Regions from separate parts of the Homo sapiens genome. Here region 1 is linked to region 2. The links come from fine-mapping of genetic effects on gene expression. A gene starts in region 2. The other region holds a variant in brackets. All regions are shown on one strand. Distances are between the middles of the regions. Region 1 overlaps ITSN2 (intersectin 2). Region 2 holds the start of FKBP1B (FKBP prolyl isomerase 1B).

Region 1 (10,401 bases), 300 kb before region 2:
AGACCATGGTTGACCACAGGTAACTGAAACTTCAGAAAGTGAAACTGCAGATAAGGGGGTCTACTGTATCCACATTATTTGGTTAGGAAATTGAAGCTATGTCATGTGCAAGTCCACAAAGCTAGGAAGTACTTGCACTGGGATTCAAACTCAAGTTGCTGGGTTTGTCTTCTGTGCAGTTGAAAGAATGCTAACCTGTGCTTATTAAAGAATATTTTAGTGCCTACCATGTGAGTGACTGCTGGGCACTAGGTATATGAAGTTAAAGAGCCATTCAGGAGCTCACAGTCTAATAGAAGCGGGGCAGGCGTGAAAACAAAAGTAACAATACTAGCTGGTATGTAGTTTAATGAGATAATACAAGACAAAATGGGACTGTGGCAAAGGAAGCTATTATTAGTAGAAGTGTCACTCAGAAGGCAGGTAGTTCCACAGGTGCAAAGAGAGGAGGCATGGGAATAAGATCAAGTGGAGGTGGAGGTGGGGAGGTTGAAATACCTGGTAGGGTAGGCGGAAGATAGAGCCTAAAACACCTTGTATGTCACGTGAATAGATTTTTTAAAAACAGCTTTATTGAGATACATATTGTAAAATTCACCCTTTTAAAGTTTACAGTTCAGTGTTTTTTAGTATATTCACAGACTTGTGCAACCAGTATCACTATCTAATTTTAGAACATTTTCGTCGTTCTTAAAAGAACCTCCTATACCCAATGGCAGTCACTTTCCATCTCCCTCAACACCGCTAGCTCTAGGTAGCCACTAGTCTACTTTCTGTGTCTATGAAATTGCCTATCCTAGACATTTCATATAAATGGAATTATACAATATATGGTCTTTTGTGACTCACTTCTTTTACTTACCATAGTGTTTTCAAGATTCATCAATGTTATAGCATAGATCAGTACTTCATTCCTTTTTATGGCCAAATAATATTTTATGGATTATATGGATATACCACATTTTGTTTATTGTTTATTCATTCATCCATCTGTAGTTGATGGACATTTGCTTCCACTCGGTTGCTTCTACTTTTTGGCTATTGTGAATAATGCTGCTGTGAGCATTTGTGTACAGGTTTTGGGACATGTTTTTATTTATCTTGGGTTCATACTGAGGGGTGGAATTGCTGACTTAACATGGTAACCTATGTTTAACATTTTGAGGAAATTCTGAATTGTTTTCCAAAGCAGTTGATCTATTTTATATTCCCACCAGCAATGTATGTGGGTTCCAGTTTAGGAGGTTAATTTTATACTATTGGTGAGCCATTACTCAGAATCACAGTGGAAAAATTGTTGAAAATTATTGGCTTAGATTAATGCTTCCTCAGTATGGTCCAAGACACTCACTAGATCAGAAGCTTTTCCTAATGGATCATGAACCAGAAATACAAGCCGTCTCCTCAGTTCTCAGGGGCTATTGTTATTCCATTCCCATAACCTCTGATATTTATGTATTAGAATAGGCTACCTACCAATAATCTGAGTTACTAAGGATTACTGAAATTTAGTATTCACAACTAAAATTAGCTGGTTTCTAGAACTTACCGAGGGCTCTAGTTTAGTTTTCTTCTAAGAAATCTGTCAGCTATACCATGCTTTGGCAGCACTAGAAAATTAGTACTATGCATGCCCACACTCAGAAGATATTTTCACTACATCAGTGGTGTTGTCTCAAATTGGCTGTGGTTCCAGTTGCTGTTATTTTTGGATTAATACAATTGTAGAATTAATGTTACATTTAAATTTTTGTGGACCGTTTTGCTCTTGTGTACTTGTTACATTGCTACAATTCTTCCTTAGGGAGTTATTTTTGCACTAGAAAATGGGAGGAGGTAGGTAGGCTGGATCTCTTGTCTTACTTAGGTGGGTGATGGTTAGAATAGTTTGGGAATGAGGCTGCTGCTCGGCCTATGGAGTAGCCATTCTTTTATTCCTTTAAAAAAATAGTTTGGGAATGAGTGGATTACATAATTGGAAGGGTCTTTCCCACTTCATTATCTTTTTTTAAGAATGAGGGTTTGTGTATGTTATCATTAAACATTTAAGCTATGGAACACATGAACTGTCTGAAAGTCTACAGTTGGCTTTGGATGTGTGAAACCTTCAGAATTATGTGCCATATTTTGTACATTTGTGTTTTTCCAGGGAGAACAACCATAGGTTTTATCAGATTAAAATAAAAAAGTCTATGACCACTCAAATTAAATAATTCAGGTTGATGAAAAGAATTTGTAAATTTGTGGTTTGAAATATTTGGGGGAAGTGAGACCTTGCTTTGGTTAGGTGGTGTTGTGAGTGAAGGATGTTTTCTGGGTATGCTATTGGTTTTAGTGTAACAAATTCCATGTTACAATATCTCTATTTTATTTTTTCCTGGTAATTTTTTTCCCTGTTAGATTTTGGAGTTTGCTTTAAAAAAATTCTCATTGCATATTGATGATGATGATAATGATGATGATGATGATGATTATTGTTGTTGTAGAGACAGAATCTCACTATGTTGCTCAGACTGGTCTCAAACTCCTGAGCTCAAGCTGTCATCCTGCCTTGGCCTCCAGCAGTGCTGGGATTACAGGGGTGAGCCACTGCAACTGGCCCACATTTATTATTATTTTATGTTTGCTTTCTTGGATGATTCTTTTGATATTATATTCAAAAGTGCTATTTTTTTTGCAGCGATAGTATACTTTATTTGTAGTAATTGAAGTATATTGGTAATTTTTTAAAAAACTTCAAATTGGCTTGATAGCATAGGAAAATGGACGAATGCTTTTCTGCCCGTTAGCTGCTACTTTGAATTTCTTTACTCTTTTATTCTGTTAGCCTTTTGGTTGAGATGTGAAACTACCAATCACAGATAAAAGTTATTCCCATGCAGGCCCTTATGGGGTATGGCATCAGCTTAGATGCCAGGCTCTGTCTGCCCCTGCAATAGGGTGTGTTTGTTGTAGTGTACTTTTCCTCTGTAGTTTTTAGCACTGGATGTAGCATGACTGGATTTGAGATGAAATGGTAATTTCAGTTAAATGCTTTTAGTAAAAGAGACTTGTTATTTATTATTGTTTATAATAGACTGAAAAATAGACAAGGGCTGCCGGGTGCTGTGGCTCATGCCTGTAATCCTAGCACTTTGGGAAGCTGAGGCGGGTGGATCACTTGAGGTCAGGAGTTCGAGACCAGCCTGGCCAACATGGTGAAACTTTGTCTCTACTAAAATGTCTCTACAAAAAGTACAAAAAATTAGTTGGGCATGGTGGCAGGCACCTGTAATCCCAGCTACTTGGGAGGCTGAGGCAGGAGAATCGCTTGAACCCAGAAGGTGGAGGTTGCAGTGAGCTGATATCGCGCCACTGCACTCCAGCTTGGGCAAAAAAAAAAAAAAAAAAAAAAATCATAGTATTTGAAAAACTAGTTGTAAGTTTACCATAGCCTTCTCTTTACTGAAGAGTAAGATCTTTACTGAGATCTTAGTATTTGTTTTTCACTTTTAATTTTTATTTATTTTTATAGATATAGGGTCTCACTGTTGTCCAGCTGGAGTTCAGTCTCATGTTCATAGCTCACTGTAATCTCGAACTCTTGGGTTCAAGTGATCCTCCCACCTCAGTTTCCTGAGTAGCTAGGACTATAGATGCACACCACCCATCACACCCAGCTAATTTTAAAATTATTGGTAGAGATGGGGTCTCACTATGTTCCTAGGCTGGTCTTGAACTCCCAGCCTCGAATGATTCTCCCGCGTTGGCCTCCCAAAAGCGCTAGGATTACAAACATTAGCCACCGTGTTTAGCCTTATCTGTTTTTAATTGTTTAACATTTTGGTATATGTGGTTCATGTAAGATTAAAAAAAAAA[GA/A]AAACCCAAATTTACATTCATATTCTACAATTTTTTTTTTGAGATGACATTTCGCTCTTATTGCTCAGGGTGGAGTGCAATGGTGCGATCTCAGCTCACCGCAACCTACGCCTTCTGGGTTCAAGCGATTTTCCTGCCTCAGCCTACCGAGTAGCTGGGATTACAGGCATGTGCCACCACGCATGGCTAATTTTGTATTTTTAGCAGGGACGGGGTTTCTCCATGTTGGTCAGGCTGGTCTCGAACTCCCGACCTCAGGTGATCCACCTGCTTCAGCCTCCCAAAGGGCTGGGATTACGGGCGTGAGCCCCAGTGCCTGGCCTACAATTTGTATTTTTTTTTTAATTACATTATATAATAAACATATCCTATCTCCTATAGCCTTGAAATTGTCATTTGTAATAGGTAAATAATATTCTGAGTGAATGTAACTTTAATTTTTTGCTTCTTTCTCTATTTTTGGATAAATTAGCTTATTTGTATTTTTTCTAATATTGGTAAAACTGTACTATGCATCCTTGCAATCTATTTTTGTTCTTTAGATATTTTCTTAAGATAAATTTCTGCTGGTTGCGGTGGCTCACGCCTGTAATCCTAGCACTTTGGGAGGCTGAGGTCGGCAGATCACAAGGTCAGGAGTTCAAGACCAGCCTGGCCAATATGGTGAAACCCTGTCTCTACTAGTACAAAAAAAATTAGCTGGGCGTGGTGGCGGGTGCCTGTAGTAGCAGCTACTCGGGAGGCTGAGGTAGGAGAATCACTTGAAACCGGGAGGTGGAGGTCGCAGTGAGCCGAGATCATGCCACTGCACTCCAGCCTAGGTGACAGAGCGAGACTCCATCTCAAAAAAAAAAAAAAAAAAAAAAGATAAATTTCCATGTGGATCAAGTGGGTATTTTGTTTTTAATGAATGTGGTCAAAATTAGAGGCACATATTTACCTATACTCTTCTACTTCTGAGGTATTTGCTTTTTATAAAATTGATAGGCTTATTTTTTAAACAGTTTTAAATTTACAGAAAAATGGAGCGAGTAGAACAGAGTTCCCATATATCCCTTCATGTACCCCACACATAGTTTCCACTATTATTAATATCTTATATCAGTATGGTACATATGTTAGGAATAATGAACAATACTGATTGTATTATGATTAACTGAAGTCTATGCATTATTTCAGTTTCCTTAGTTTTTATTTAATATCCTTGTTCTGTTCCAGGTCACCACATTACATTTAGCTGTCATGTCTCCTTAGGCTCCTCTTAGTTGTGACAGTTCCTTAGACTTTCCTTGTTTTTGATGACTTTGACAGTTTTGAGAGGTTACTGGACAGATATTGTAGGAGATATATAAATATATTGTAAGTATATTGGAATTTGATGATTTGTCATGCTTGGACTAAGTTAGTGAATTTTTAGGAGGAAGATGACAAAGGCAAAATGATACTTTCATCTTATCAAGAGCACATACTGTCTGCATGCTTTATGACTGTTGATGTTGACCTTGACCAGCTGGCTAAAGTAGTGTTTGTCAAGTTTTTCCTCTCTACAGTTAATCCCCCACCCTCCTTTCTGTGCTATACTCTACGTAGCCTTCTGCCTTTCCATCTTTGTGGGCTGGGATACAGTCTTAGAGGTCATAGAGATAAGAAGGGTAGACACTGCTAGACATCGCAAGTGGTGGTGGTAGAAGGGTAGCGCAAACAATTTGGACTCATATCCATTTCTTCACTCCAAAATAAAATCCACGTAGATCAAATATATACATAAAACCCTTAAATCATAGAGGTACTAGAATAAAATATAGGACAATTTTCTGGTATAAGACCTGGTATGAGACAGGCCTTTCTTTGTATGACAAGACACTCACTAGTCATAAAAGAAAGACCAACAAATTTAAATTGGTATAATGAAAGATGCCCTAAAATTAAAAGACAAACAAGCTAGATTAAAAGCATTTATAGCATATGTTACAGGTAAAAGCTTACTATTAATATAATATCTATTATTGTAATGCATAGAAAAAGATCCGTGGATACAGGTCATGTTGTTAACAGCACTGGGTATTTTCAGAGACTGATGGGGAAGGATGGTCAAAAGAATTGGCTTTATTTGTATGTTTTAAGTTTTTACAATGAGAGTATTAATGTATTATGTGTCTATTAAAAAATAAATTTTGATCTACCCATCCTGTTGAATATTATGTAGAATCGAATGTGGTATTTCTGATGGGTATTATCTTAGAAGAAGGTTTAGACAATGTAAAATACATATGGGTATATATACGTTTATATAATATGTAAAAATAGGCTGTGAGAATGTACTTCAGTGGCTGATATGGTTATCTTGGAGATGGTACTGTGAGTGAGGTAATAAAGAATGACTGTCATGTTTTGCTCTTCATAATTGTACATTATTTGAAGCCTTTGCTTTTAAATTATTTGTACAGTAAAAATAAAAACATAGGGGAAAAAAGGCTGAAATGGGGGAAATCTGAGCTCTCACATATAAAGATCCTATAGAACCACACTATCCCATACAGTAGCCTTTAATATGTGGTTAATCAGCACTTGAAATGTGGCTAGTTCTATATTGAGAAGTACTCTAAGTGTATAATAAGTGTAAAAGCTGGAGTTTGAAGACAGTACAAAAATGTAAAATGTCATAAGAATTTTTATACTGATCATATGTTGAGGTGATAATATTTAGATATGAACTAATTAAAATATATTAATACAGATTTTACCCGTTTATTTTTACTTTTTATTTATTTTTTTGAAATGTAGTCTCACTCTATTATCCAGGCTGGAATGCACTGGCGCAATCTGGGCTCACTGCAACCTCTGCCTCTCAGATTCAAGCGATTGTCCTGCCTTAGCTTCCTGCGTAGCTGAGATTACAGGTGCCCGCCACCACGCCCAGCTAATTTTTATATTTTTAGTAGAGATGGAGTTTTACCATGTTGGACAGGCTGGTCTTGAACTCCTGACCTCAGGTGATCCACCTGCCTCAGCTTCCCAAAGTGCTGGGATTACAGGCGTGAGCCACTGCACCTGGCCTAATTTTACTTTTTAAAATGTGGCTACTAGAACATTTAAAATTACATTATGTAGTTTGTGTTGCATTTCCATTGAACAGCATGCTATAGAAAATGGGCAAAATAAATGAATAGGCAATTCATAGGAGAAATATACATGATAGATATATGAAAAATGCTGAGTTCCCTAATGATCAGAGAAATGAAAATTTAGAAAAAATTTGCCTCTCAGGTTGGCAATACATAAAATAATTGTTCATACCAAATATTGGCAAGATTATACAGAAACAAGTATGTTTACACACCAATGGGAATATAAAATGGTACTATTAATAAATTTTGGAAAGCAACTTGATACCCATTAATTCTACTTCTAGAAGTATTGTCCTACCTAAATACTCAGTATATATATGAGGATGAGGATGTTCAAAGTAGTATGGTTTGTTAGGCAAAAAACTGGAAACCGTCTTAATGTCCACCAGTGGAAGATAGCTTAATTTCTGGTATATCCATATAATAAAATGCTGTACACCTATTTAAAAGGATATGATTGATGTATTATATATTGCTATGGAAGGATATCTGTAATATGTGTAATGAAAATAATAGAATATTAATTGGCTAGCATAATTTTATTTGGGTTTGAAAAATAACATGTTTGTTTATATATGCATAAAATAAATCTGGAAAAACAAATACCAAACTGTTAACTGTGGTAATCAGGACTGGGTCTTCAGGTTCACCCCTCCTCCCCTGTCTGTGGAGTCCGCTTAGTAAGTTTTTCATGTTTGAGATTTTTGTGGAGCATGTGCTTATAAATTACATTTATTTGGAGAGGAAAGCTTAGTTAAGGGAAATAATGTTTGTGGAAAATTGCTTAGAGGAAATGGAGTATATTACTGGTATAGGTACTCTAAAATGTCTTTTGAATTAAGTCAGAGTTAGAGGGTTGTGTCTCTAAACCGCATCTTATTGGTATTATGCTATCAGCCTGTATTGAGAGACTTTATAGGTAAAGTCCAATTTAGGCTGTTTGGTATTATCTATTAAAATTAGAATGTTCATGCTCTCTAACCTGCTACTTCCACTTCTAGAATTTATCTTTGGAAGCACATATCTGTCCACAGACCTATATTTACACACATGTATGAAGAATGTTTATTGTAGCATTAATTGTAACATTTGTTAAAATGAACATGAAGGGAAACATTCTAGGCAGTGGTTACAGTACAAGCAAAAGCAGAGTAACTAGTGTGGTCTGGAAAAATAGAAGATTACTTATTCACTGTGAAAAATTGGTAACATGAAAAAAGCAGAACAATGAAGTATGACTTCATTTGTGTAAAAGTGGTATTTGCTAGTGTATAAATAGGAAATATCTGGAACAATCTATTCAAAACTGCTAATGATTGTTTTCTTGGTAATGGACTTTCACTTTCTATTATATATATATTTTTTAATGTTTAATTTTTCAGGTTGTTTTAAGGATCTTATGCTAATTGACATTTGTATCAGCTAGGCATTAACATTGTACTTATTTTTGTATCTATTGTTATGGTTCCTTGCATTGTTGTTAGCCTTTCACTTTTTTTTTTTTTTTTGAGATGGGGTCTCACTCTGTTACTCAGGCTGGAGTACAGTGGCACGATCTTGACTCACTGCAACCCCCATCTTACAGACTCAAGCAGTCCTCCCTCCTCAGCCTCCTGAGTACTTGGGACCACAGGCACATGCCACCTCGCCTGGCTGATTTTTTTTATTTTTGGTAGAGAGGGGTTTCACTGTGTTGCCCAGGCTGGTCTTGAACTCCTGAGCTCAAGGTGATCCACTTGCCTCGGCCTCCCAAGTGCTAGGATTACAGGCATGAGCCACTGTGCCAGGCCAGCCCTTCACTATTTCATGTGAGTAAGTAATCTTCTATTTTTCCAGACCACACTAGTTACTCTGCTTTTGCAGAGTAACCTCTGCCTAGAATGTTTTCCTTCACATTCATTCATTTTAACAAATGTTTTGATGTGTAGGGCCTAAGCTGATTTGAATGCAAGCTGAAATGCACATATCTGGTTGAGTCATGGGAACTGATTTGCATGTGTCTTTCTCTTTTATGGCTTGAAGAGGAGAGAAATTTGTGCTTAGACACTTGAGGGCCTACGAGATCAAGGAGTCTGTCCTTAGCTCTGCCCTTTGGACTGTTGTCTGAGCCTAAAGAAGAGAGACAAAGAAAGCTTGCATTGGGAGGCTGAGGTGGGAGGATCACTTGAGCTTAGGAGTTTGAGACCAGCCTGGGCAACATAGGGAGACTGCACCTCTATAAGAAATTTTAAAAATTAGCCGGGCTTGGCAGCGTGCTCTTGTGGTCCCAGCCGCTTGAAAAGCTGAGGTGGGAGAATCACGTGAGCCTGGGAGGTCGAGGCTGCAGTGCACCGTGATTATGCCACTGCACTCCAGCCTTGGCAACATTGACTGTCTCAAAAAGATTATATATCTCTAAAAGAAAAAAAAATGGTAGAAGAAAATCTGTACCTTCTCAATCGCTCTTTCTTCTGCTTCTAAACTTATGTATGCCTTTGTTCATTCTTACTCCCCTTCCTGAACTTCATTCTTAGAGACAGAAATATCTGTCCCAGGTTCTAACTTCGTGTTCTAGAGCTGTCTACTACTTCTTTTTCTGGCCCTAACTTCCATTAGGTAACTTCTCTCCCATCTCCTTTTTGTAAATTAAATCTTTATTTCTTTTTTTTGTCTAAAAATAGTTTTGTTCTGTCACCTAAAAACTAAAGCCTTATAATAACTCTGCCTCCCTTTCTTAAATCTTACCTTTTTTCCTATGTATTTTTTGAGAGGAAATCTTGCTCTGTCGCCCAGGCTGGAGGGCAGTGGTGCGATCTTGGCTCCCTGCAACCTCCACCTCCCAGGTTCAAGCTATTCTCCCGCCTCACAGGCACTCACCACCATGCCCGGCGCATTTTTGTATTTTTAATAGAGACAGGGTTTCACCATGTTGACCGTGAGACCGGTCTCCTGACTTCATGTCATCTGCCTGCCTCAGCCTCCCAAAGTGCTTGGATTATAGGTGTGAGGCACCACACCCAGGCTCTTCCCCTTATTTTAAACATTTATTGCCTAATCTACTTCAATTTGGCTTCTATAGCCATCACTGTGCTAGAACTACACTCACTCCAGATTGCCAACACTAATAGCTGAGTCTTAACTTCTGTGACAATACCATTTTCTCCTTGAAACTCTTAACTCTGTATCCCGATTTCTCGTGTTTCTGAACCTCTGTTTCTGACTATTCTTGTCTCTTTTTTCTTATACATGATTTCCCTGGATAATGTCATTCACCCACATGATTACAACTACTCCCAATCCCTAATGACTACGAAATCTGGGTTTCTAGATAGAGTGTTCACTATATCTTGGACACTTCCATCTAGATGTCTTTGTAGGTGGATCAGATTAGGTGTGCTCAAAATTGAACATTTTGTTGTTCATCCCTCAAATCTA
Region 2 (10,401 bases):
GTGAGACTTACCTGTGTAGTGCACCACACACGTTTGGCCCTTCTTGGGGAATGTCCTTCCTGCAGGGAGACATGAGGGCAGATGAAGGAGTAGGATATTGGAAAAACACCTGGGACATTAAGTATGATCCTGACCAAGAGCTCCAGCCTGCATTCCCCTCCATGCCATGGAGATGCCTGTGGCCCTAGTTCTGGCTCTGGGCCCTGTACGAGCCAGAATGAATCACGTCACCTCTCTGGCCTGGATTTACTTTACCCCCTCAATTTTCTCAATTCTGCTGTCTCCTGGGCTTTCCCACCACCCCACCCCCACTTTCTTTGATTGCCCCTTTTACTTCACATCATCCATTCCACAGACATTTACAGTTGGCCTCCTATGTGCCAGGCCTGGACCAGACTTCAGACATGCAGAGCAATGTATGAACTCATGAGGAAGGTAGGGAAACAGACACACAAATACCAGATTACAATGCAGATTATAATCCATCCATCAAAGATGAATAAACACAATAATTTACAAATATTTGCTGAGAGGCCAGGCATGGTGGCTCACATCTGTAATCTCAGCACTTTGGGAGGCTGAGGTGGGAGGATCACTTGAGCTCAGGAGTTCTAGATCACCCTGGGTAACATAGGGAGACCCCATCTCTAAAAAAAAAAAAAAAAAAAAAAAATCTTTTCAATTAGCTGGGTGTGGTGCCGCATACCTATAGTCCCAGCTACTGAAGAAGCTGAAGTGGAAGGATTGTTTGAGCCCAGGAGGTCAAGGCTGCAGTGAGCTGTGTTCATGCTACTGCACTCTACCCTGGGTGACAGAGCAAGACCCTGTCACAATAAACAAACAGACAAAACAAAACAAAACAAAACCACAAATATTTACTGAGTACCTATGGTGTGCCAAGCCTGTGCCTGATCACAGGGATACAGCAGTGAACACTACAAACAAGATCTCTATCCCTGTTCTTTTAGAGTTTACTTTTTTTTTTTAAGAGTAGGGGTCTCAGTGTGTCACCCAGGCTGGAGTGCAACAGCATGATCTCGGCTCTGTGCAGCCTTGACCTTTCCTGGGCTCAAGCAATCTTTCTTCCTCTGCCTTCTGAGTAGCTAGTACTGCAAGTGCATGCTGCCATGCCCAGCTAATTTTTTTAAAAAAAATTTGTAGAGACAGGGTCTTAACATGTTGTCCAGGTTGGCCTTGAACTCCTGAGCTCAAGAGATTCTCCCACCTCAACCTCCCAAAGTGCTGAGATTATAGGCATGAGCCACCAAACCCGCCCTGGAGTTTATATTCTAATGGACAGAGACAATACTTAAATATACAAAATGATTATGGATTATGATGAATACTCTAAAGAAAATACACACAATGATGTATTAAAGGGAGATGCAGTGGGACAGGCCATTTCAGACAGAGTGGTCCAGGATGGCCTCTTGGAGAAGGTGCCCCCTGGAGCTGGGACTTGAAGGATGAGCAAAATACTGGGAAATAGCACTTGGGAAAGGAGTAACAAGTGCACAGAATCAACACATTTGCAGTGAGCAAGGAGGCTAGGTGCTGGAAAGAAGGGAGGGAGGAGAGAGGTGGGAAGGACATGGATCATGCAGGGCTTGAAGAGCCGGATTTAATACTAAGTGCAATAGGAAACCACTGGAGGGTTTTAAGCCAGAGAATGACATAATCTGAATTAAGATTTTATAACATCACTCTGGCTGCTATGTGTAGGATGGACGGTTAGGCGTCTGTTGCAATAATCCAGACAAGAAATCAATGATAGCTTGATTTAAGGTGGTGGCAGCAGAGAAGAGAGTGAAAGATTGGAGACATATTTTCGAAGCGGAGCTGACAGGTCATGCAATCAGACTGGAAATGGGGTCCAGGATGAGGACAAAGGAGACAACAAGAACGATGCTTGGGTTTTCTGTTTGGGCAACTGGATGAATAGTGCAACTATTTCCTGAGATAGGGAAGACGGGAGGAACAGATTTGTGCGGGTGGCAATCTTGAGATGCCTATTAGACATCTGAGTTTATATTGCAAGTAGGCAGATGAAGAGTCTGCACTGGAGGTATAAATTTGGCTGGAATTTAAAGCTACGGGGCTGGATACAAAGCCTAAGGAAGCCTAACCACAGAGCCGATATTTAGAGGACTCTATGGGATCCTGGAGGAGGGAGCAGCTAACTGACCACAGAAGTCAAGGAAAACATCATAGAGGAGAGAATGGTGAAGCCAGGTCTTGAAAGACAAGTAAGAGTTTGCCAGAGGAAGTGAAAAAACACCATCTGGGAAGAGGGAACAACATGTAACATGTTCAAAGGCCCTCAGTCCAGCAATAGCGGGAACCCTGTCTGTTTCAACTGTGTCACCTTAGGGCCTAGCACACACGTTCAATAAATATTTGCTGAACGAGTGGTGTGTTTGACAACTTGCAGGCAGCTTGGGAAAGCTGGAGGAAAAAGTTAGTGGTGGGCTTAGGACAGGTGGTGAGAGATGAAGCTCTAGTGTGGAAGATGAGAATAGACCATAGCACCAAAGGCCCCTCCTGGGGGAGAGGGAAGAATCATTAAAACATCTTCTGCCTGAGGGAGGGGCATAGTCAAACATGCATTTTTTTTCTTTTTTTTTTTTGAGATAGAGTCTTGCTCTGTCACCCAGGCTGGAGTGCAATGGCACAATCTCAGCTCACTGCAACCTCTGGCTCCCAGGGTCAAGTGATTCTCCTGCCCCAGCCTCCCGAGTAGCTGGGATTACAGGTGCGTACCACCATGCCCAGCTAATTTTTGTATTTTTAGTAGAGACGGGGTTTCAACATGTTGGTCAGGCTGGTCTCGAACTCCTGACCTTGTGATCCGCCCGCCTCAGCCTCCCAAAGTGCTGGGATTACAGGCGTGAGCCACTGCATTTTAAGAAGAGTCTTCAGGCTATGATATAGAAAGGGAGTGAATATGAGATTGGGGACGAGATTGAAAGCAGGGAGGAGAGACTGAAGATGGGGAGATTAGCTCAGGGGCTGCTGAGGGATGAAAAGGCCTCAGGGAGATGCTTTCTGGGACCCAGCAGCAATGTTTCCTGCGTGGGCAAAGAAGCCTGTACTCCAGGGGATATCTGAAGTAGTGGCTGGGATTGGACAAGGAAGATGGCCTGGAGCCAAGAAGTTATCCAATTTCCTGGGGAGGGGAGCTGTTCATATTAATAATATCTGATATGAAGTTTGCCCATCAAACCCTGCAGACAATGGGGGCTTTGGTATTAATTAAATTTCAAGAAATAAAGAAATGGCTATTCCTTGCACACCCAGACCCAGTAATACAAGGACTTGGGAAAGTGAGACACGGAAGGGGGATAAAGAGGATCACTTAGGAGAGAAGGTGGGAAGCGAGAGTTCTGTTTTGGACTTGCTGACCAGGGAGCACCCTGGGACGTCCAGGGAGAGGTTCGGCCGTAGGTCGCAGGGCTGGGCTTAGAAGCTTCAATGTGGAGGCCATGGGAGTGGACAGGGTGGCCAGGGAGTCTGAAAGCGGCGGCAGGATAAAGCGAGATCCGGAAGCGGGCAAGGGAGCGCTTCCCCCTTCCCCAGCCTGGGTCTGTCCCCACAGCCGCTCACAGCCCGGCCCGCAGGGAAGCGACCGAGGGGAGGCCCGGCGGGGGACGCGCTAGGAGGAGGTCCCCGAGCAGCGGGTATCCGAGAGCAGGTCCTGCTTTCCAGAGCTCGCCGAGTAGGGCAGGGAAAGCGAAGCCGAAACCCAGGCTGGGGTATCAGCAGCAGCGGATAACCGAACGACTGCAGCCGCGACAGGAGAAGCCCGGGGCGGTGGCGGGCCGCAGACCCCCGCCTCCGGGCCGCAGACCCCCGCCTCCGAGCTGCCGCCTACATTCCCCTAGGTGAGCGCGGAAGAGGATGGCGGAGGATGGTCTCCTAGACCCCCAAGAATCCCGTCCGGCGTCTCCGCCTGCCTTCCCCATCCAGCCCCCCGACCCTTCAGCACCCTCCACGCCACCTCCGAATCAGACCCCCGCCCTCCGGGCTCCGCCCCGGGACCCCTCCCCTCCCCTGGCTCCGGAGGGAGCCCGGTACCGTCTCCGGGGGAGATGGTCTCGATCTCCACGCCCATAGCGGTCCCACAGGCCCCGCCTCTGGGGGGTCCCTGCTGCTGCCCGACCCCGGCTCGGCTCCGGCCCCAGCCCCGCCGTCGCTCCGGCTCGCCTCCTCGCCGCCACTGCAGAGCCGGAGGAGGTGCGGCTGGAGTCGGGACCTGCGCGGGGAGGGGCCACTGGCAAGGGGGCGGCGGGGCGGAGCCGCGCGGAAAGGTGGGGTCGGCCGGGGCGGGGCCCGGGGGAAGGGACCCCGCCCGGCTGTTAGCGAGCCTGGCCCCGCCTGACGACATTAACCCACTGACCAGGGAGCGTGGTAAGCACAACCACATCCTCCATCCATCCATTCATTCGCGCATCCGTCCAATAGACATTTATTTAGCATCTAATCTGTAGTAAGCTCTGGGAAGTCAACCCAGTCCTACAGACTTGTGGGGGGTGGGGGGCAGAAGGGGCAAAGGCCGGCGATTAAACCATCATTTTATTTTTATTTTTATTTTAGACAGAGGATCTTGCTCTGTCGCCCAGGCTGGAGTCCAGTGGCGCGATCATAGCTCACAGCAACCTCGAACTCTTAGGCTCAAGCGATCCTTCTTCCTCAGCCTCCACCCAAGTAGCTGGGACTAGAGGCGCGAGCAACCACGCCCAGCTAATCTTTTATTTTTTATTTTTATTTTTTGTAGAAACGGGGTCTCGCTGTGTTGCTATCTAATGAAACCATCACTTTAATTAGATGCGCTCAGTGCCGTGCAGTTCAGAGCGTTGCGGAAGCACAGAAGAGGTTCCTACCCTCGCTAGGCGTCCTGGATCTGTAGGAGCAGAGCTGGGGGAGGGAGGGAGGACACCAGTAATTGCTGACTCTCCCCCATACCCCTAAACCCCTGTTCTCCATCTCGTGTAGTTCTGCTCGACGCACATTTATTGGGTACTCAATTTTCAAGGCAAAGAAATGCGCCCTGGGGATACCAATAGAATTAAGACAGGTTGGCTGTCTTCCAGGTACTAAGTCTGAGAGGGACGGGGACACACAGTTACTGCATGGAGTGATTAGTGCTGTGGAATGAATGAATGAATATGTAAATGAATTCTACTTTGAGTTCCTCCTCCACCAAAAAATACATTCAGGAATCTAGAAAAATATTTTTTGGAGGAGGTAATATTTGTTTAAAGGGTAATTGGGACTTTTAAAATTTTTTCCCCCTCATTATTACCTGCATTGTTCCAAAAATTGATGTGAGGCCAAGTATATCAATTTTTGGAACAATGGCTCACACCTGTAATCTCAACACTGTAGGAGACCGAGGCAGGAGGATTGCTTGAGCCTAGAAGTTCAAGACCAGCCTGGGTAACATAGCGAGATCCCGTCTCTCTCTCTCTCCTTTTTTTTTTTTTTTTTTTTGAGACAGAATCTTCACTCTGTCGCCAGGATGGAGTGCAGTGGCACAATCTCGGCTCACTGCAACCTCCGCCTCCCAGGTTCAAGCGATTCTCGTGCCTCAGTCTCCCAAGTAGCTGGGATTACAGGCGTGAGACACCAGCGTTCGGCTAATTTTTAAATTTTTAGTAGAGACAGGGTTTCACCATGTTGGCCAGGCTGGTCTCGAACTCCCGACCTCAGGTTATCCGCCCGCCTCAGCCTCCCAAAGTGCTGGGATTACAGGCATGCCATCTTTATTTTTAAAAAAAGAAAAGAAAAGAAAAAGAAAAACATAAAAACTGATGTGAAGATATGATTCTCCTGAGTGGCACTGGAAGATAGGCATGGGGAGAAAAGCCTGGCAAACTGGTCCAGAATGAGCCCCAAGGGTGTTCTTCCTCCATTTCCTCATCCCCACTCTCCCGGATGCTTAGGTCCCAGATGAGGTTGTCTGCATCCCTGAAGGTGTTCTGGCTGTGTTGTTAAAGAAAGATGATTGTCGACTGTACTGTGAGGGTCAGGACCTGGAATTCCTCATAGGTCTGAAGAAGCCTAAGGGACGCACTAAATCCATAGGCTGCGGCCAGAGCAGGCACGCTTAGGGTCGGGGTAGAACAGGGATTTGTAGCTGGGACAGGCCCATGCAGCGGCTTCAGCTCAATGCACAGTATTTTGTGTACAGATAAGAACATTTTCCTGAGAGATTTTATCAGATTTTAAAGAAGGTTAAAAAGCCGTGGTGATCCTAGGGCTCCTGGACTCCTTAGACAAGAGAACCGACGAGAAGTGGGGAAAGAGCTCAAGTGCTTAAGGGAGGGAAAATGTGGCGGGCTTGCGGTCGGTGGTTTTACGGGGACTACCACTCCCAGCGATCCGTGCGGCAGAGCCAGAGCTTATTGGCCAGTGGGACGAACCCTCTGCTAATGTGCATATTCAAAAGCCAATAGACGGGGCCATCTCGGAGCGTGCCTATCCTATCAGAGGACCACCCACCTATCAGAGGACCGATATCACCGCCCACCTATCAGAGGACTGAGGGCCGGTGCTTCCGGTGGCTGCCCAGAACTTCTTATGTGCGGCGGCGTGATGTTGGGCGGCCACAGAGAGATTGGTGTTTTTGTGAGGCAGTGAGACCTAAGGTATTTCATCTCCACTGCTGCCGGGCCTGGCGGGTGTGGGGAGGCTGTAGGGGGTCAGGAGGGAAGTGGATCGGCTCTTGGTGGGTAGGGGGCGGGAAGGAGGAGATTCAGGCGTGCAGAGAGGATGAGGAGAATGGGGCGGGCCGCGTGTGAGGGGTCGCGGGATGAGGATCGAGCTAGGGGTGGGTGTAAATGAGGGATTATGACCGTGACTCGTGAATAACACTCCTGGGAATATGTCCCAAGGAAGTCATCCAAAGTCAGGAAATGCTTTAAGCCTTAAGACCTCGGTCCGAGCTTTATTTATAGCGGGTAGCGGGATAAAGTTGGGTACAGCTAGGAGCAGTTCAGTACATTATGTCACTTCACTGAGTGTATGTGAAGTGGCCTCTAAAACTAATTTATTAAACTTTTAAATAACATAGGGAAATGCTAATATATAATGTTAGATGAAAACCGTGATACAAAGTTGCACAGTATAACTGAAAAAGTTTGACAGCCAAACTATGCATAGAAGAGTCTAGAGGGATTAGTCATAATTTTCTTTGGATGAATGTTTTTTCGTTAACTCTTCTTAATTTTTTTCTTGTGTATGATTTTTGTTTCCAAATAAGTGTAAAGAACTTGAAATCATTTTATAGTGGAAATACAATAAACTTGGAAAACAAGTTGGGGGAGGGATGTACTTTTGTTTAAACCTGCTGGAAATGCCAGTTCACCTGAATCCCTTGATTCTCGTCATGAGTTGTCTTTAAAGAAGATGAAAAACAGAATTAAATGGTTATATACTGAGCACCGGCTCTTAGTTTTCTGACCACCTCTCCGGAGACCTGAACTAATACAGTGGTCTTTTCCCTCCTAAAACACCCAGGGTTCTTGATTTCATGTTCTCCAAAAAACTTATACTCTGGAGATTGTGAAACAATAGGTATACAATTAGTTTCAGGCAAAATCAGTAGCGTTGGGGAATGCCTGAAGAGCATTTAAACCTTGGTCCTCCTGGCCCTCTGATCTTATACAGTGAGGTTCTCCACTACCTTGACTTTAATGATTAACCCTATGTCAGTGATTTCCAAATCCTTACCTCTGACTGCCTAAGGTACATTGGTACCATGTAGACATCTTACATGAAGCACATGTTAATTTCAATTTGTCACATACTACACACGTTCCTCCCCTACTGCCCCCACCCCCACCTCCCCAACAGGGTCTCACTCTGTCACCCAGGCTGGAATGCAGTGGTGTGATCATAGCTTACTGTAACCTTGAACTCCTGAGCTCAAATCCTCTCAGCCTCCATAGTAACTAGGACTGCAGGTGTGGGACGCTGCACCCAGCTAATTTTTATTTTTATTTTTATTATTTTTTATTTTCCTTTTTTATGGAACGCTTCACAAATTTGCAAGTCATCCCTGTGCAGGGGCCATGCTACGCTCTGTATCATTTCAGTCTTAGTATATGTGCTGCCAAAGTGAGCACCCACCTCATTTTTAAAAATTTTTCTGTAGAATTGGGGTCTCCCTGTGTTGCCTAGGCTGGTCTTGAAATACTGGCATCAAGTGATCCTCCCACCTCAGCCTCCCAAAGTGCTGGGATTACAGGTGTTAGCCACTGTGCCTGCCCTTCCTTTCCTTTCTTCCTTCCCTCCCCCTCCCCCTTCCTTCCTTCCTTCCTTCCTTCCTCTCTCTCTCTCTTTTTTTTTTTTTTTTTTTTGAGATGGAGTCTTGCTCTGTCACCCAGGCTGGAGTGCAGTGGCGCAAACTCGGCTCACTGCAACCTCCGCCAGCCGGGTTCAAGCGATTCTCCTGCTGCAGCCTCCCAAGTAGCTGGAACTACAGGCACACACCACCACGCCCAGCTAATATTGTATTTTTAGTAGAGACAGGGTTTCACCATGTTGGCCAGGGTGGTGTCGAACTCCTGACCTCAGATGATCCACCTGCCTCAGCCTCCCAAAGTGCTGGGATTACAGGCATGAGGCACCACACCCAGCCTGCCCTGCCTTCCTTGCCTTTGAAACATGCTCTGGTTAATGGTTCAGCAGTTTCTCAAGCTAAAAATCTGGGTGTTATCCTTAATTCTTTTTTCCTCCTCACTACTTATATCCTATCGATATCACTGTCTATTCCATCTGCCTTAAAAGCATCTCTTGAATATGGCCTTCTTTCTCTACTGAAATAGTTGCAAACTTGCTTCATTTTCACTTTGTGGCATTCAAATTACTTGTCAACTTTCTTCCTTCTCAGGTCCATTCTGCATATTGTTACTTGAATATATGCTGGTTCCCCCAAGATTCCAAATTCCTCAGCATGCCCTTTATGATCAGAGAATAAACTTAGAAAGATATATCAATATCTGATAATATAAGGTTTTAATTGCCTTGTTAAGACATTTTGAGGCTTTTTATATACTGTAGATGTGGGGATTCATCAAGGGTGTTTATGCAGAAGAGCAAAATGATCACCGCTGTGCTTTTTTTTTTTTTTTTTTTTTTTTAAAGATAATTCTGCCCAACAACACATAGTATGCAGGCTCATTTGGAAAGTAGAGACTGGTATCAAGGGGACCTCTCCTTGTTTTACCCTAATAAAAAGGGAGAAGTCAGAACCTGGGCTAACACAGGAGTAGAAAGGAATGGAGCAGATTTTTGTAATTATCACTGCGTTTTTGAGAAAAATGTGCCACATTTCTTCTTGTTACCGAAGATGACAATATTAAAATTCATTCTTCTAAAAACCTCAGTAAACTGGCCCATGCAGTGGCTCACGCCTGTAATCCTAGCACTTTGGGAGGCCAAGGCAGGAGGATCACTTGAGGTCAGGAGTTCAAGACCAGCCTGGCCAACATGGTGAAACCCAGTCTCTACTAAAAATATAAAAATTAGCTGGGCATGGTGGTGGGCCCCTATCCCAGTTCCTTGGGAGGCTGAGGCACAAGAATCACTTGAACCCAGGAAGCAGAGGTTGCAGTGAGCCCAGATCATGCCACTGCACTCCAGCCTGGGTAACGGAGCAAGACTGTGCCCCCACGCCCCCCCCAAAAAAAAACCTCAGTAAACTTATGTTTGTTTTTCTCTTATTCCCAAATCCTTGTCTTGTGCTACCCTGGCCACACACACCCTCATTGACATTAGACAGAATTTGGTATCCTAAAATATATAAATCGACTTGGATGTAATTGGCCCATTAGGAATTTTCTCTGCCCATGAAAGTGTATCATGGCATTATTTATCAATAAAATTCTTTTTAAAGTACATAAGTAGATATTAGGGAGAAAACATTATTATCTTTCATAAGACCAGTGGGACAGAGATCACAGTTTTCTTCATTAGTAATGACTGGACTTTTTTCTCCGTTTAGCAAGCCGCTGCAGAACCACTGAATCTGACATCATATATAAAAGCATAATAGACCCTTTTTTTTTTTAAGTGAAAGATCCTAAGAGCAAGGACAAAGCTAGCAAGGAGATATGCGAAATAATTTACAGATAAGCAAATCACCAGGTTGGTAGAGAATACATTTCATTGGATTTAGAGTCTGAAGACAACTTCTCAAGTTCTGCCTTTGACACTTACTCAGTAAAACAAGGCTGAAAAATGTCATTTAGATTCAGTGACAGGGAAGCACTGGTGGCCTGGTGAGAGATGTTTTGGAGAAGAAATTGGAATGGAATTCATTTTAAGTATATTAAGAAGAGAGTGAGTGGTGAAAAATATGAGTACTGCCAGTTTACACAACTATTTGATAACTAATAA

Evidence for each region. PIP is the estimated chance that this variant, and not a neighbour inherited with it, causes the effect.
Region 1: its variant is fine-mapped to the expression of FKBP1B in whole blood (INTERVAL, PIP 0.95).

Annotation. Positions count from the first base shown.
Region 1 is chr2:24,341,185-24,351,585 of GRCh38, reverse strand. All of the region lies in intron 1 of ITSN2 (intersectin 2), which reads left to right. Among named protein-coding and RNA genes, the nearest start is that of ITSN2, 14 kb to the left of the region's middle. The variant GA/A (reference allele first, on the strand shown) is at 3,859.
Region 2 is chr2:24,043,560-24,053,960 of GRCh38, reverse strand. FKBP1B (FKBP prolyl isomerase 1B) reads right to left here and starts at 4,220. Exons shown (of 4, transcript NM_004116.5): 1 at 4,075-4,220; 2 at 12-59. The coding sequence starts at 4,111. It overlaps WDCP (WD repeat and coiled coil containing), which reads left to right and starts at 6,570. Exons shown (of 4, transcript NM_025203.3): 1 at 6,570-6,647. It also overlaps the pseudogene RNU6-370P. RefSeq lists silencers at 1-122, 4,059-4,358.